4 linked regions of the Homo sapiens genome follow. The protein of the gene in region 1 purifies or fractionates together with the protein of each later gene. This does not show direct contact. Each region holds a gene or a part of one and is shown in the gene's direction. Other genes may lie near its edges.

Region 1 (3,500 bases):
GTTCAAGCGATTCTTTTGCCTCAGCCTCCCAAGTAGCTGGGACTACAGGCACACGCCACCACATCCAGCTAATTTTTTGTATTTTTAGTAGAGATGGGGTTTCACCATGTTGGCCAGGCTGGTCTCGAACTCCTGACCTCAGGTGATCCGCCCGCTTTGGCCTCCCAAAGTGCTGGGATTACAGGTGTGAGCCAGCACGCCTGGCCTTTGTTTTGTTTTTTTGAGACAGAATCTCACTCTGTATCCCAGATTGGAGTGCAGTGGCATGATCTTAGGCTCACTGCTACCTTCACCTCCCGAGTTCAAGCGATTCTCCTGCCTCAGCCTCCCAAGTTGCTGGGACTACAGGTGTGCACCACCACGCCCGGCTAATTTTTGTATTTTTAGTAGAGATGGGGTTTCACCATGTTGGCCAGGCTGGTCGTGAACTCCTGACCTCAAGTAATCTGCCCGCCTTGGCCTACCAAACTGCTGGAATTACAGGCATGAGCCACCATGCCAGGCCTGTCCAAAGAGATTTTATATTGGTACTATTTATTACAGAAAAATTGGAAACAACCTAAATGTTCTAACGCAGAGGATTAGTTAAGCTTTTTTTTTTTTTTTTTTTTTTGAGACAGAGTCTCGCTCTGTCAGCCAGGATGGAGTGCAGTGGCACGATCTCGGCTCACTGCAACCTCCGCCTCCTGGGTTCAAGCAGTTCTCCTGCCTCAGCCTCCCAAGTAGCTGGGACTACAGGCATGTGCCACCACACCCGGCTAATTTTTTGTATTATTAGTAAAGACCGGGTTTCACCATATTAGCCAGGATGGTCTGGATCTCCTGACCTCGTGATCCATCTACCTCAGCCTCCCAAAGTGCTGGGATTACAGGCGTGAGCCATCATGCCCGGCCCTAGTTAAGCAGTTTTTAAAAATATATCAATAGGGTATGGGCCTGGTGGCTCATTCGTGTAATCCCAGCACTTTGGGAGGCTAGGATGGGAGGATCACTTGAGCCCAGGAGTTCAAGACCAGCCTGGGCAATATGGCAAAACCCTGTCTCTGCAAAAAAATACAGAAATTAGCCGGGCATAGTGGCACATGCCAATGGTCCCATCATTCAAGAGGCTGAGGTAGGAGGATCGCTTCATTCAGCTCAGGAATTCAAGGCTGCACTGAGCCATGATTGTGTCACTGCACCCCAGCCTAGGGAACAGAGTGAGACCCCATCACTACAAAAAGTTTAAAAAACTAGCCAGGAGTGGTGATGGGTGCCTATATAGTCCTAACTACTCTAGAAGTGGAGGCAGGAGGATCACTTGAGCCCAGGAGTTCAAGGCTGCAATGAGCCATGATTGCACCACTGTACTCCATCTGGGCAACAGATGAATCAGGAGTTCAAGTAAGACCCTGTCTAAAGAAGAAAAGAAAAAAATTGTTTGTACATAGATGATGATTTAATAGGGTTGAGAGACGCAACACTGATGTGTCAATCTGTGCTTACAGCAGACAGAGAATAAGGAATAAGGAAAGGGAAGGATAATTAGGTCCTAGCCATAGGGGAGAAGACTATTAGAAAAGTTATGTTTTAAAAGGAAAAATGTGGGAATAGAGGATAGCTTCTCTGTTTTCATTACCTGGCAGACCCCAGAAATGGCTTAATATTGGCTTATTTACATATAGTCTACAGTTAAGTTGCAGTTAGCTGCTGTATTAGGCCGTTCTTGTGTTGCTATAATTACCTGAGACTGGGTAATTTATAAGAAAAGTGGTTTAATTGGCTCATGGTTCTGTAGGCTGTACAGGAAGCATGGCATCTGCTTCTGGGGTGGCCTCAGGAAGCTTCCAATCATGATGAAAGGCAAAGAGGGGACAGGTGTCTTATGCATAGTGGGAGCAGGAGGAATAAAGAGGGGTAGGTGTCATACTTTTAAAGAACCAGATCTTGTGTGAACTCAGACCAATAACTCACTTATCATCAAGGGGATGGCAACCAAGTCATTCATGAGAGATCTACCCCCATGATCCAAACACCTCCCACCAGGCCCCACCTCCAAAGTTGGGGATTATATTTCAATATGAAACTTAGAGGGGACACATAAACTATATCAGCTGCTAAGAGATTTCATTTCCTTTAAGTGCACTTATGGCTGAAATTTTCCATAATAACTGTAGATAACTCAACATGTTTAAGTAGATTTTAGTTTGGTATTTGATTAAAAGTTCATAAAATGGAACAAGAGGAAATTAGTTATTAGCAAGAATGTTGAAGAAAAGTTGGAATTAAAAAAAAATCTCAGGCGGGTGCAGTGGCTCACGCCTGTAATCCCAGCACTTTGGGAGTCTGAGGTGGGTGGATCACCTGAGGTCAGGAGTTCAAGACCAGCCTGACCAATATGGTGGAACCCCCATCTCTACTAAAATTATAAAAATTACCTTGGTGTGGTGGTATGCACATGTAGTCCCAGCTACTTGGGAGGCTGAGGCAGGAGAATCGCTTGAACCCGGGAGGCGGAGGTTGCAATGAGCTGAGATCGCGCCACTGCACTCCAGCCTGGGCGACAGAGCAAGACTCCTCTCAGAAAAAAAAAGAAAAGAAAAGAAAAGTAGATTCCTGTTAATTACTAAGGAAAATAAATTCTGCTGGGCATGGTAGCTCCTGCGTGTAATCCCAGCTCTTTGGGAGGCCAGGGTGGGAGGATTGCTTGAGGCCAGGAGTTCAAGATCAGCCTGAGCAACATGGTGAGACCCTGTCTCTACAAAAAATAAAAATAAATAAAAATAATTGCGTGGTGGCACATGTCTGTAGTCCCAGCTACTTGGGAGGCTGAGGCAGAAGGATCACTTGAGCCCAGGAGTTAAAAGTTGGGGCATCAGAAATTTTAGACACTTAAGCTGATTTCTTTGATGTATTTAACAACATACATCCAGAAAAGTGGATCATTTGGGTGCTGAGGGAACATCTAGAATCTGCTTTAGTCATAATTTTTTTTTAGATGGAATTATTTTGATCTAGAATATTAACAGTGGAGAAAAAGCTAATATAAATGGGATGGTTTTGAGACAGGCAATGAAGGTTAAGGAAAAACAATCTGTAGATAAGTTAGATTTCCAAGGCATTTGTTGAAATGAATGGCTAAAGTAGCTTGAGATGAAGGGGTGATAGATGGGAGAAAGGAGGAGGTTGCTGGAATGACAAGTTTTTGGTGAAGTATTACTCCTTGGTTTATTGGCAGTAGAAGGGACATAAGGGTGGTGCAGGTCAGCCATTTGGATAATATTTGCTGTATGTGATCCTTGCAGAAGGCGAACTAGAGCTAAGGGGCCAGGCCAGGCATGTTGGCTCATGCCTGTAATCCCAGCACTTTGGGAGGCTGAGGCAGGCAGAGCACTTGAGCCCAGGAGTTTGAGACCAGCCTGAGCAACATAGTAAGATCCTGTCTCTACAAAAATATTAGGTGGTGTGCACCTGTAGTCCCAGCTGTTTGGGAGGTTGAGGCAGGAAGATCACTAGAGCCC
Region 2 (3,500 bases), on another chromosome or scaffold:
CATGCACAGAGGGGATAAGACTGTGAAGGCAGATTGAAAGACCTACCACCTCTCATGCTCATGAGGGGCTCTTTTTGAGCAGCTCCTTATTGTCCTTAGGTAGGCTCAGTCACAGCCAATTAGGAGTATACAGTCCATGACCTAATGTGGATTTTGACTCACTTATATTGGAAACACAAGCAATTGCCTAAACATCAAGCCAGGGAGTTTACATGGGTTTACTTCTATAGCACCCGCTACTCCCTGTGTCACGGTCCTTTCTCCTTTGTGTTAACATTGTTAGTTTCACTTGATTCTATTCCTTCTAAATTGTAAAATTCTGGAGGAAGGAAGGTTCACCATTGTATCTCAAGCTCCTAACATAGAGCCTTGGTTAGAGTACAGGCCCCATGAATATATGCTGAATTAATAATTACAACAAGTAAAAGATGTAGGGTCCAAAGTGTAGGAATTTATTATTTGGAAGAGATGAAAATAGGAGTCTGTATAGAGCTGCGATTTTTAGAAACTATTTAATTTATCTTAAACCATATGGAAATTGACACTAAAATTATCCAGTTTGTCAAATTTTGCATAATTTATATATCTTGAACTTTGAAACATTTCATTTCCCAGAGATTGCTTCAGCTAACTTCAAAAAAGTAGCTATTTTGTACATTACTGCAGCAGATGGTTCTAAGACCTGAAGATACAATCTTACAAGTCACCTGTCTTAAGTATTTTTTTCCTATTTGCTATATTCTGTCCTTGTTGGTATTTTTGTTTTAGAACTGTACCGGGTTGCATAGATGTTTAAAAAGATTTCTTTTCTTTTCATTTTGAAATAATTTTAGATATACAAAAAAGTGATGAAACTGGTACAAAGATTTTCCACAATCTTTCATCTAGATTCCCAACTGTGAACATCTTATGTAACCATAGCACTGTTATCAGCCTCATGACATTGAACAATACTATAATCTATGGATCTTATTCAAATTTTGCCAGTTGTCCCACTGTTGTCTTTTTTCTGATCCAGAATCACACATTGTTTTTAGTTGTCATGTCTCCTTGTCTCTTTTCATCTGAAAGAGTTTTTCAGTCTGTCTTTATTTACCTTTCGTGACCAAGAAACTTAAGGGCACTGGCCAGTTATTTTATACAGTCTCTCATTTCAGGCCAGAAGTTTTATATTTTTATGTAGCTGCATTTATTAATGTTTTCCTTTACTTATTTTATACAATGTCATCATAATGACTGTAATGTTCCAATGTCTGGGAGTAATTGTTAATGTAATCAGTTTTGTTGGGCATTTATGATGTCGTCAGCATTTACAATTACAAATAGTACTGTGCTGAGCATTTCTGTATCTAAATCTATTTTATATCCTTGCTTGTTATGAAGAGAAATTCCCCTGAGTTAAGGGATATATATATTTTTTAAAGGCATTTGTGCGAATCACCACAGTATCCCCTACAAAGTTGTACTGCTTTGCATTGCTGCCAGCAAAGTAGTGAGCTATTTTCAGATGTAAACTGTACTTTGTATTACTAATGTTCATTCTTAGAAATGACCATCTTTTGTTTTTTAGGCATGTGGTTTGGTTAAAAACTTGGCCCTTATGACACACATCACAACTGATATGGAAGATGGACCCATTGTTAAATTAGCCAGTAACTTGGGAGTAGAAGATGTGAATTTATTATGTGGGGAAGAGCTCTCTTACCCAAATGTGTTTCTTGTCTTTCTTAATGGTGGGTATATTATAGAGACATGTTGGTCCTAGATAGTCTGTGAAGAGGGGGAGGGAATCCATTATTATCCTGGTATTTAAAGCACAGATAGACTTTAATTCTGGGCCCAGGTTGACCTTCACTTAAAGGTAGAAAATACAATGATAACAGAAACAGTTACTTTGTTGGCTGGGTTATCCAAGGTTCTGAGAGGATATAGCTATCAGAGCTAAAGGGTAACTTTGCAGAAAGTGGCTGCTTTCTCCCCTTTTGCAGTTGCTGGCATATCCTTAGTGGAATACGGTTCAACATGGTATCTTTAAGTACAAGTCAAATATTGGAGTCATTCTGCAAAAATTATCAGATCAACTCTTATAATGAATTGACTTTGTCTAGCCATCTGATAATCAATATGTCAGCAGCCTGTGATAAGAGGATCCCTCTCCTTTGGCTCACACTCCAGTTATTTCTTTCATATACCTCTTCCCGTCTCCTTCGAAGTCTTCCAGAGACTTAGCAGCAAGTGTGCTCTCTTCCTTTCTGCTTTTGATTTGGTGCTGTGTGCCTGTTCTCTCCCTAGTATGCTCCATGAGCTTATCCCTTATCACTTGTCTGTTCTCTCTTCCTCTCCCCCTTCCTCTCATTCTAGGAGGCATTAACTCTTTTTTATATCTGCTGGTGAGGAAGGGGTCAGAGCCTCAGCAGGGCTGTTAACTGACTGCCTAGTTCATTGTATCCCAGAGGCTAACATTGAGTGAGCTTTTACTCTGCACTTTCACCCAGTGCCTCTTTGAATCCTCCCGCTAACCTTGGGAAGCAAAGTTCATTTTCCTCATTTCACAAATGTTGATTACAACAAGAAGCAGTTTAATAATAGCAGTTAGTAGGTGCTAGGCAGAATTCTCAGTACTTTAAATGATCAGCTCGTTTAACCTTTACTGCCAGCCTGTGGAAGTGATGGAGCCAGTGTTCAAACCCAGGTTGTTTGGACCCCAAGTTCATGCCCCAGCACTGTGCTGAAAGATGAGGAAAATGAAGCTGACTTTTCCAGTATTCCTCAGCCTGCATGTGGAAGGACTGGCCCTTAAGCATTCTTCCTTTGTTGCTTCCCTGCAACCTTGTGGACTGGCTGCAGGTGTTAATAATGGTATTTTCAAATAACTGCTTAGTGCTGATTACTATTTTTATTGGTTGGATATATTAAATCAGGTTGCATTTATTTTTTATTTCTGTCTTACCTGTTCTTTCTTTTTGCCTAGGTAACATCTTAGGTGTCATTCGAGACCACAAAAAGCTAGTGAATACATTTCGACTCATGAGAAGAGCAGGATATATCAATGAATTTGTTTCCATCTCAACAAATCTTACAGATCGATGTGTCTATATTTCTTCTGATGGGGGAAGGCTATGCAGGTATATATGCAGGTTACTAAAAAGAGTTTTTAAGAATCTCTTTATATTTGCTCTTGAAAGAAATAGACTTGTTTTTATTTTTGAAACTGTTTTAACCTCTTTCATTGTGAAGATAAATTTAATTCCGTGAGCAAACACTTCATGAATATGCATATTAGGTACCGAGGATTCAGATTAATGGGAGACAGAGTCTGCCCTCAGAGAGCTCAGTCTGCCGGGAAAGGCAGAAAAAATGACTAATAACAATCAACTGTGGTAGTGGTTAATGCTAGCCACCATTTGTCATTTTAATGGAGACACTATATGTGTAAGGCTTTAACTTCTTCATTCAACCCTATGAGGTTGGATTATTCTTGTCATTTAAGAAATGAGGAA
Region 3 (3,500 bases), on another chromosome or scaffold:
ACAAAAAAACAAACAAAGAAGGTTGAATACAAATACAAAGCAAAAGTTTACATCATACAGACTTGGTAGATATGTTTTTAAAAGTAAAAATAAAAGACTGAAATTGGCCAGAATTTATTTCTAGGGACCCAGCTGTCAGTGCAGACTCCGTGTAATACCTAGACTTGGTGTGAGGCATGACTGAGTATGGTTCAGTTTCCTCCTCTAATCCCGTAAGATATTAGTTCTCAAGAAAAGAGCCCAGGGAATTTTAATTTTTACTTTGGATCCCGAGCAGGCATATTTCTCTTTGGCCTAGCAGAATTTCTTTCTAGATCTGGATCTGTTCTTTGTAATGATTTTTGATAAACAATATTCAGGATGTAAAATGCTTAGCTATCATTTGACTGACTCCATCATCAGGCTTTCTCCTACATGTTCATTTTATCAACCCTATAAGGTAGGAACTAGCCTCTCCATTTTACAGATGAGAAACCTGAGGTGGTTCCAAAGAATTGGGTAATTTGCCCAAGGTTCCTGTTTGCTTGGATTGGATTGCAGCCTGACTCTTCCCACCACTCTGTGTGCTGCCTCAGATACTATAGGATATGAGTTCTTCCTAGAGTTCTTCTGACTTTGAGAGTAGCTACAGCTGGTTTCCCTGAAGGCAGGAGTTCCTAACCTTTTGGGGTTGTGGATCCCTTTGAGAATCTGGTGAAAGCTATGAAGACCTTCCAGAAGGATGCACATACTATACATGCCATTTTGCATACAGTCTCTGGGTATATCGACCTGTCAATGTCCATTGACCACCCCCACCCCCCAGTTAAGAATTACCCACTTCTGGCTGGGCGTGGTGGCTCAAGCCTGTAATCCCAGCACTTTGGGAGGCCGAGGCTGGTGGATCACCTGAGGTTAGGAGTTCAAGACCAGCCTGGCCAACATGGTGAAACCCCTTCTCTACTAAAAATACGAAAATTAGCCGGACATGGTGGCATGTGCATGTAATCTCAGCTACTTGGGAGGCTGAGGCAGGAGAATGGCTTGAACCCGGGAAGTGGAGGTTGCAGTGAGCCAAGATCATGCTACTGCACTTCAGCCTGGGCGACAGAGTGAGACTCTGTCTCACCAAAAAAAAAAAAAAATTACCCACTTCTTGCCAAAATGCAGCTTCAAGAAATGTAGGAATGTTCTAGGACAGTGAGACTAAAACAGAAGCCTCTGTTAGCCATCAAAGGCACTGACATCTTACTGTCTGCTGTAAATGGCACTCCACTGGGCGGCATGCAGTATATTTGACTCACACATCAACTTTAGCCCTTAACCCCAGTGGGAAAACCACTGTAAAGATCTGGATACCAGGGGCCACATGTGTGCTGATGCCTGTGGTTTGGTGGGGCTACAACAGGAAATTCCTGCTTTGGAAAGACAGAAAGCAGATAGCCAAATTCTCTCTACCACATTTTGGAAACTATGTGTTTGAGTCTGATCAAGCATGATTTAGATTCAAATTCAGAAACCATGTATTAGCCTTAGTTATGTGCCAGGCAGTCCTGCACTGGATCCGTTCATGTGAATGGCTCTGTTGAGCCCTCACCAAGACAAATACATCTATAAATGCCTGTTGGGGGTTCAATATTTAAACAAAATGGCATATACTCTTCAGGCAAACAGGAACTCTTCAGAATTCTCTGCTGTCTATTTGCGTAGGGAATTGACAGTTCTCACTTAGGCAAAATGACTTGTGTGCCAAGATATAGACTTTGGTTTCTTGAGCGTAGCTCAGTGTTCCCCAACTTCCATATTCATCAAAATTATGCATACGGTTGAACACTCAAAGCTAGACATAGTGTGATGTAAAGGATTTTTTCAGGCTATCTTCTGGGTTGTTGAGGTGGGGCATAATGCATGTGAAATTGTTTCTTGGAATGAGAGCCTAACAAAGGGGAGGACTGTGTTATATTCCGACCACTGAGCTCTGTATTGCTTGACACTGCCTTTCAACCTCTGAGAAATAAAAGTTCACATACCTTAAGTCGATGGTCATGAGAGACCAGGTCAGGGATGGAGTGTGAATGTTGTGAGCTCATTACTGTTACTGCAAAAGAGCCAAAAGTAGTGTTTCAGTATGAACTATTTTTATACACACACAAATATCTTTTCTTCTTTAAACTAGAATCAGGTGCTCTGGTTTTCATTTTATAAATGGAAGGGAAACCCTAAGGAGAGTCTGGTTTTATGTTTTAGCTTTATTTTTTAAAAATATATGGTACCTCCTTGAGAATCTGATGAAAGCAGACATCCTGCTGCCTCTTCCAGATGTGCCTAAGCCTGTGTACACACTCACACACACACGTGCACACTCACAGAGACGCACGTTCACATTCAGTTACCGAGAACTCATGGACCTGTCTGACCTCTGAAGCCAGTCTGCCTGGGTTGAAATCAAGTTCCACCACCTACTGGCTCTGTGGCTTTGGCCATATTATATAAAGTGTACCTCAGTTTCTCAATCTGTAAAATAGTGCTGGTGATCCTCCCTAATAAGATGGATTGCAGGATTAGCAGAGATAATAAAGTACTTAGGAAGTTTTGGCACATAGTAAATTCAATCAGTGTTAGCTATTTTTTTATTATTTCATTGGTACTTTATGTTATCCAAGTACTCTTTATTTGCAAATTTGTAAATTTAATCACATTAAATATTAATTTTTAAATACTAAACATTCAATTTTCATCATTTTTTAGTAAAGTAGACCTTATTAAGACATTTAAACAGGTCCTACATTATAAACATAATTTTTGCTGTGAATGGAATAGAGCCACTGAAATGTACAGTGACCCTTTAGCCAGTAAGCTCATGCAAGTTTTAGCTCTAAGAAAAAAAAAACACTACTCTGAGACATTTACCAATATATTTGACCATGTAACTTTTTGTTTCCTGGGTCATCTTAATGAAAGAATGCTCCAACTTGAGAAATTCTGCTCTGTGCCAAAAGTTGGCTTTTTTTCTTTCCTTTTAAAAGGACTTATTAATTGTTCTTTATGTTTGCAATATGTTTATAGCTTAGGAATTATTTTATGGAGTATCAGAAAAGGTTATAGATTTACAAACAAACCTTAAGCTTGTGGAGCAAAAAATAAGGCATTTGTTATGTTCTGTACTTCTTGTGATTCTTGACTATATGAGTGCAAATGGCTTATTGAGTTATTGTTGAGAAATATAAAAAGCTAACTGATAACTTCTCCGTTAAAATTTTACAAAAACTTAAACACTTCTTTCAGGCTGCAGAAGATGTCAATGTTACTTTCGAAGATCAACAAAAGATAAACAAATTTGCACGGAATACAAGTAGAATCACAGAGCTGAAGGAAGAAATAGAAGTAAAAAAGGTATTGAAAATAATTATTAGAAGAATAAAATTTTTTTATACTATAGCTACTAAAACTGAACTCAGTTAACAAGTGAATATATATTTCTCTGGGCTGTTTGTTGCAGATGAATGACGCGATCCACTCTA
Region 4 (3,500 bases), on another chromosome or scaffold:
TGTTAAAATTCAGAGAACTTTATATCCCAAATTTGCTATATGTTAATTAAAAAAAAAAGTAAAAATAAAGCCTTAAGAAATGAAGGGAGGCGGGGCACGGTGGCTCACGCCTGTAATCCCAGCACTTTGGGAGGCCAAGGGTGGCGGATTACCTGAGGGCAGGAGTTCCAGACCAGCCTGGCCAACATGGTGAAACCCTGTCTCTACTAAAAATATACAATTTAGCCATGCGTGGTGGTGGGCACCTGTAATCCCAGCTGCTTGGGAGGCTGAGGCAGGAGAATCGCTTGAACCTGGAAGGCAGAGGTTGCAGTGAGCCGAGGTCGTGACAGAGCAGGACTCCATCTCAAAAACATAAAAATAAAAATAAAAATAAAAAAAAGAAAGAAATGAAGGGGCCAGACAAAGCGGCTCATGCCTGTAATCTTAGCACTTTGGGAAGCCGTGGCAGGGGGATCGCTTGAGCTTAGGAGTTCAAGACCAGCTTGGGCAACGTGACAAAACCCCATCTTAAAAAAAAAAAATAGAAAAATTAGCTGGGCATGGTGGCACGCACTTGGGAGGCTGAGGTGGGAGGATCGCTTGAGCCCAGGAGATTGAGGCTGCAGTGAGCCGTGTTTGTGCCACTGCACTTCAGCCTAAGTGACAGAGAAAGACCCTATTTCAAAGGAAAAGAAAAAGAAGTGAAGGCCCTGTAGAGAGCGTCCTAGTGTCTAAGCTGACCTGGCCCCAAGCGCTGCTCGAGGGGTGCTTCTGTGACGGCGCAGCATGTGTGCCCAGGCCTGGTTCCTCACGGCCAGGCCCATCATCACTCACTGGCTTTTTCCTTCCTCGTGTTAGATTGGAGCTGGAGGGAGCATCACTGGGCTGAAGTTTAACCCTCTCAATACCAACCAGTTTTACGCCTCCTCAATGGAGGGAACAACTAGGCTGCAAGACTTTAAAGGCAACATTCTACGAGTTTTTGCCAGCTCAGACACCATCAAGTGAGTAGTTTAACTAGCAGGGGAAAGGGCTTCTAAGCTTAGGTGTAGTTCCGGCAAGAGCATCCAGATCCCATTTCCTTAACCCAACCTGGCCCAGGGAAGAAAGGAAAGATGTCAGCCACTTTCCGCCCTTCTTTCTCTTTCTCAAACTGCTCCTTGGCTGCCCTCACTTTGGTCCAGGTGGGTTACTGCTTTGGGAAGGTGTTCTGGAGCCTCAGCTCTTCTGTAAGTCATACCTGTATTAGACTGGACCTTGACCCTCACTAGATAAGCCAGCATGGCGTGGACCCAGAAAGCCACCTAGAGAATGGAGCAACAGCTCAGAACTTGAGACTGAATGCCCTGCACTCACTGTGGTGTAATGACCTGACCTGTTCCTGGGTGGAAGCTTATATGGATGGAATCTTTTCCATAAAGTGCTCTGGACTTCCCAAGAGAAAGTGGCTGGAGAAATTACAGAATGCGGCCGGGTGCAGTGGCTCATGCTTGAAATCCCAGCACTTTGGGAGGCCAAGGTGGGTGGATCACCTGAGGTCAGGAGTTCGAGACCAGCCTGGCCAACATGGTGAAACCCCCATCTCTACTAACAATACAAAAAATTAGCTGGGCGTGGTGGTAGGCCCCTGTAATTCCCAGCTACTTGGGAGGCTGAAGCAAGAGAATCGCTTGAACCCAGGAGGCAGAGGTTGCAGTGAGCCGAGATGGCGCCATTGCACTCCATCCTGGGCAACAAGAGCGAAAATCTATCTCAAAAAAAAAAAAAAAAAATTACAGAATACTCGTCACTTTGATTTCCAGCTAGAGCCGTGACTCTGACTGCTCCCTGAGGAATTAAGTGAGGGTGCTGGGGTGTAACTAGCATTGGATTGGATCCTGGGCTGTCCCGCAGGGATGAGGAGTGCATGCGCACGCAAATCAGCAGGCAATTGGATAGACAAGGCTCCAGGCTACTCTTCCGCAAGAAATCTTCCTGCTTGAAGATATTCATAGGGGATGGCAAAAGGCAGTGTAGCATGGATTTGAGAGTTTGAGAGAAAAACTGTGAGCTGAGCTCTTCTGGCTGAATAGCAGGATCCCTGAAGCACCCTCCTAGTCAGCCTCCCAGTCCAGTGGTTTGAGGGACCAGAAGAGCTCCTGGTTGTGTTTTTTCCCCCAGTGTTCAGAAGGGGGCAGAAGTGCTTTTCTAGCCAGCTCTGAGGAACAGGGCCAGGCAATCCCTCTTTGGCTTGTGTCTCCTTTGGCCTAAAGGGTGAAGAGTGAAAGGAGAGAGCAGTAAAGGAGGCTTGCTCAGAACCCGGGGTGTGGGGGGCAGGCGTGCCTCAGGGCTTGCTTTATGGTATAAGCTTTGTCTGCTTCAGGGACTTTTAGGAGCTGGGGATCCTGGGCCCAGCCATAACCAGACAGATTTCTGAGCCCCATTATCCCATCCCCTCTGTCTGGACGGTAGAGCAGTCTGAATGTTCCTCACTAGGAATCCACGGCAAGACAGTTATTCATTCATTCAACAAATATTTATTGAATGCCCGCTGTGGGTTAGTCACCGGAGCGGCAACAGTGAGTAAATAGGACTATCTCTGTCCCCAAGAATCTTACAACACAGTCTCTCCCTCCAGCATCTGGTTTTGTAGCCTGGATGTGTCTGCTAGTAGCCGAATGGTGGTCACAGGAGACAACGTGGGGAACGTGATCCTGCTGAACATGGACGGCAAAGAGGTGCGTTCTCCGAGGTCCTGCCTTTCCCTCCCTCACCCCCACCTCGGTTCTGTGTCCCCACCTGAACCGAGCTCTTCTCTGCAGCTTTGGAATCTCAGAATGCACAAAAAGAAAGTGACGCATGTGGCCCTGAACCCATGCTGTGATTGGTTCCTGGCCACAGCCTCCGTAGATCAAACAGTGAAAATTTGGGACCTGCGCCAGGTTAGAGGGAAAGCCAGCTTCCTCTACTCGCTGCCGCACAGGCATCCTGTCAACGCAGGTGTGATATCCCAGACCTCATCTCTCCTGCAGACCCTGCCTGTCTGACCACTGCTGGGGTTTTCCCTCAGTGTGGAAGCCACTACGTCAAACCTTTACCCCTGATAGCGTCTGCCAAGCTGATGTCTGGGAACCTTTGTGGCTGTGGCTGTCCCCATCAGCTGCTGAGTTTCCAGAATTTTTTTGTTGTTGTTCACAGCCCAGATTCACCTCTTCCTTTCCGCTCCTGTCTAGAGAGGAGTGGGAGGGAGAGTACCCCTGCAGGAGAAGGCCTGCAAGGCCAGGACCACAGAGGGCTTGTGGTTCCTTCAGCTCAGGGGCTTTTCACTTTGCCAGCTTGTTTCAGTCCCGATGGAGCCCGGCTCCTGACCACGGACCAGAAGAGCGAGATCCGAGTTTACTCTGCTTCCCAGTGGGACTGCCCCCTGGGCCTGATCCCGCACCCTCACCGTCACTTCCAGCACCTCACACCCATCAAGGTGAGTGGCGGTGGGAAGGAGCTCGCAGAAGGAGGCTGTGATCATGAGGCCGGAGCAGGTC

What was found.
Region 2: the proteins of PFDN2 (region 1) and POLR3B purify together in Homo sapiens (affinity purification with mass spectrometry; 3 studies listed by BioGRID and IntAct, with this or other methods). This does not show direct contact.
Region 3: the proteins of PFDN2 (region 1) and PFDN4 purify together in Homo sapiens (affinity purification with mass spectrometry; 7 studies listed by BioGRID and IntAct, with this or other methods). This does not show direct contact.
Region 4: the proteins of PFDN2 (region 1) and DDB2 purify together in Homo sapiens (co-immunoprecipitation; 3 studies listed by BioGRID and IntAct, with this or other methods). This does not show direct contact.

What each region holds. Positions count from the first base shown.
Region 1 is NC_000001.11:161,104,538-161,108,037, reverse strand, and holds part of PFDN2 (prefoldin subunit 2), read left to right. Parts: intron 1-3,500. UniProt on the Homo sapiens protein: Binds specifically to cytosolic chaperonin (c-CPN) and transfers target proteins to it. Binds to nascent polypeptide chain and promotes folding in an environment in which there are many competing pathways for nonnative proteins.
Region 2 is NC_000012.12:106,430,748-106,434,247, forward strand, and holds part of POLR3B (DNA-directed RNA polymerase III subunit RPC2), read left to right. Parts: intron 1-1,570; coding exon 1,571-1,733; intron 1,734-2,971; coding exon 2,972-3,125; intron 3,126-3,500. UniProt on the Homo sapiens protein: Catalytic core component of RNA polymerase III (Pol III), a DNA-dependent RNA polymerase which synthesizes small non-coding RNAs using the four ribonucleoside triphosphates as substrates.
Region 3 is NC_000020.11:54,211,087-54,214,586, forward strand, and holds part of PFDN4 (prefoldin subunit 4), read left to right. Parts: intron 1-3,264; coding exon 3,265-3,372; intron 3,373-3,500. UniProt on the Homo sapiens protein: Binds specifically to cytosolic chaperonin (c-CPN) and transfers target proteins to it. Binds to nascent polypeptide chain and promotes folding in an environment in which there are many competing pathways for nonnative proteins.
Region 4 is NC_000011.10:47,231,974-47,235,473, forward strand, and holds part of DDB2 (DNA damage-binding protein 2), read left to right. Parts: intron 1-840; coding exon 841-986; intron 987-2,599; coding exon 2,600-2,699; intron 2,700-2,783; coding exon 2,784-2,961; intron 2,962-3,296; coding exon 3,297-3,439; intron 3,440-3,500.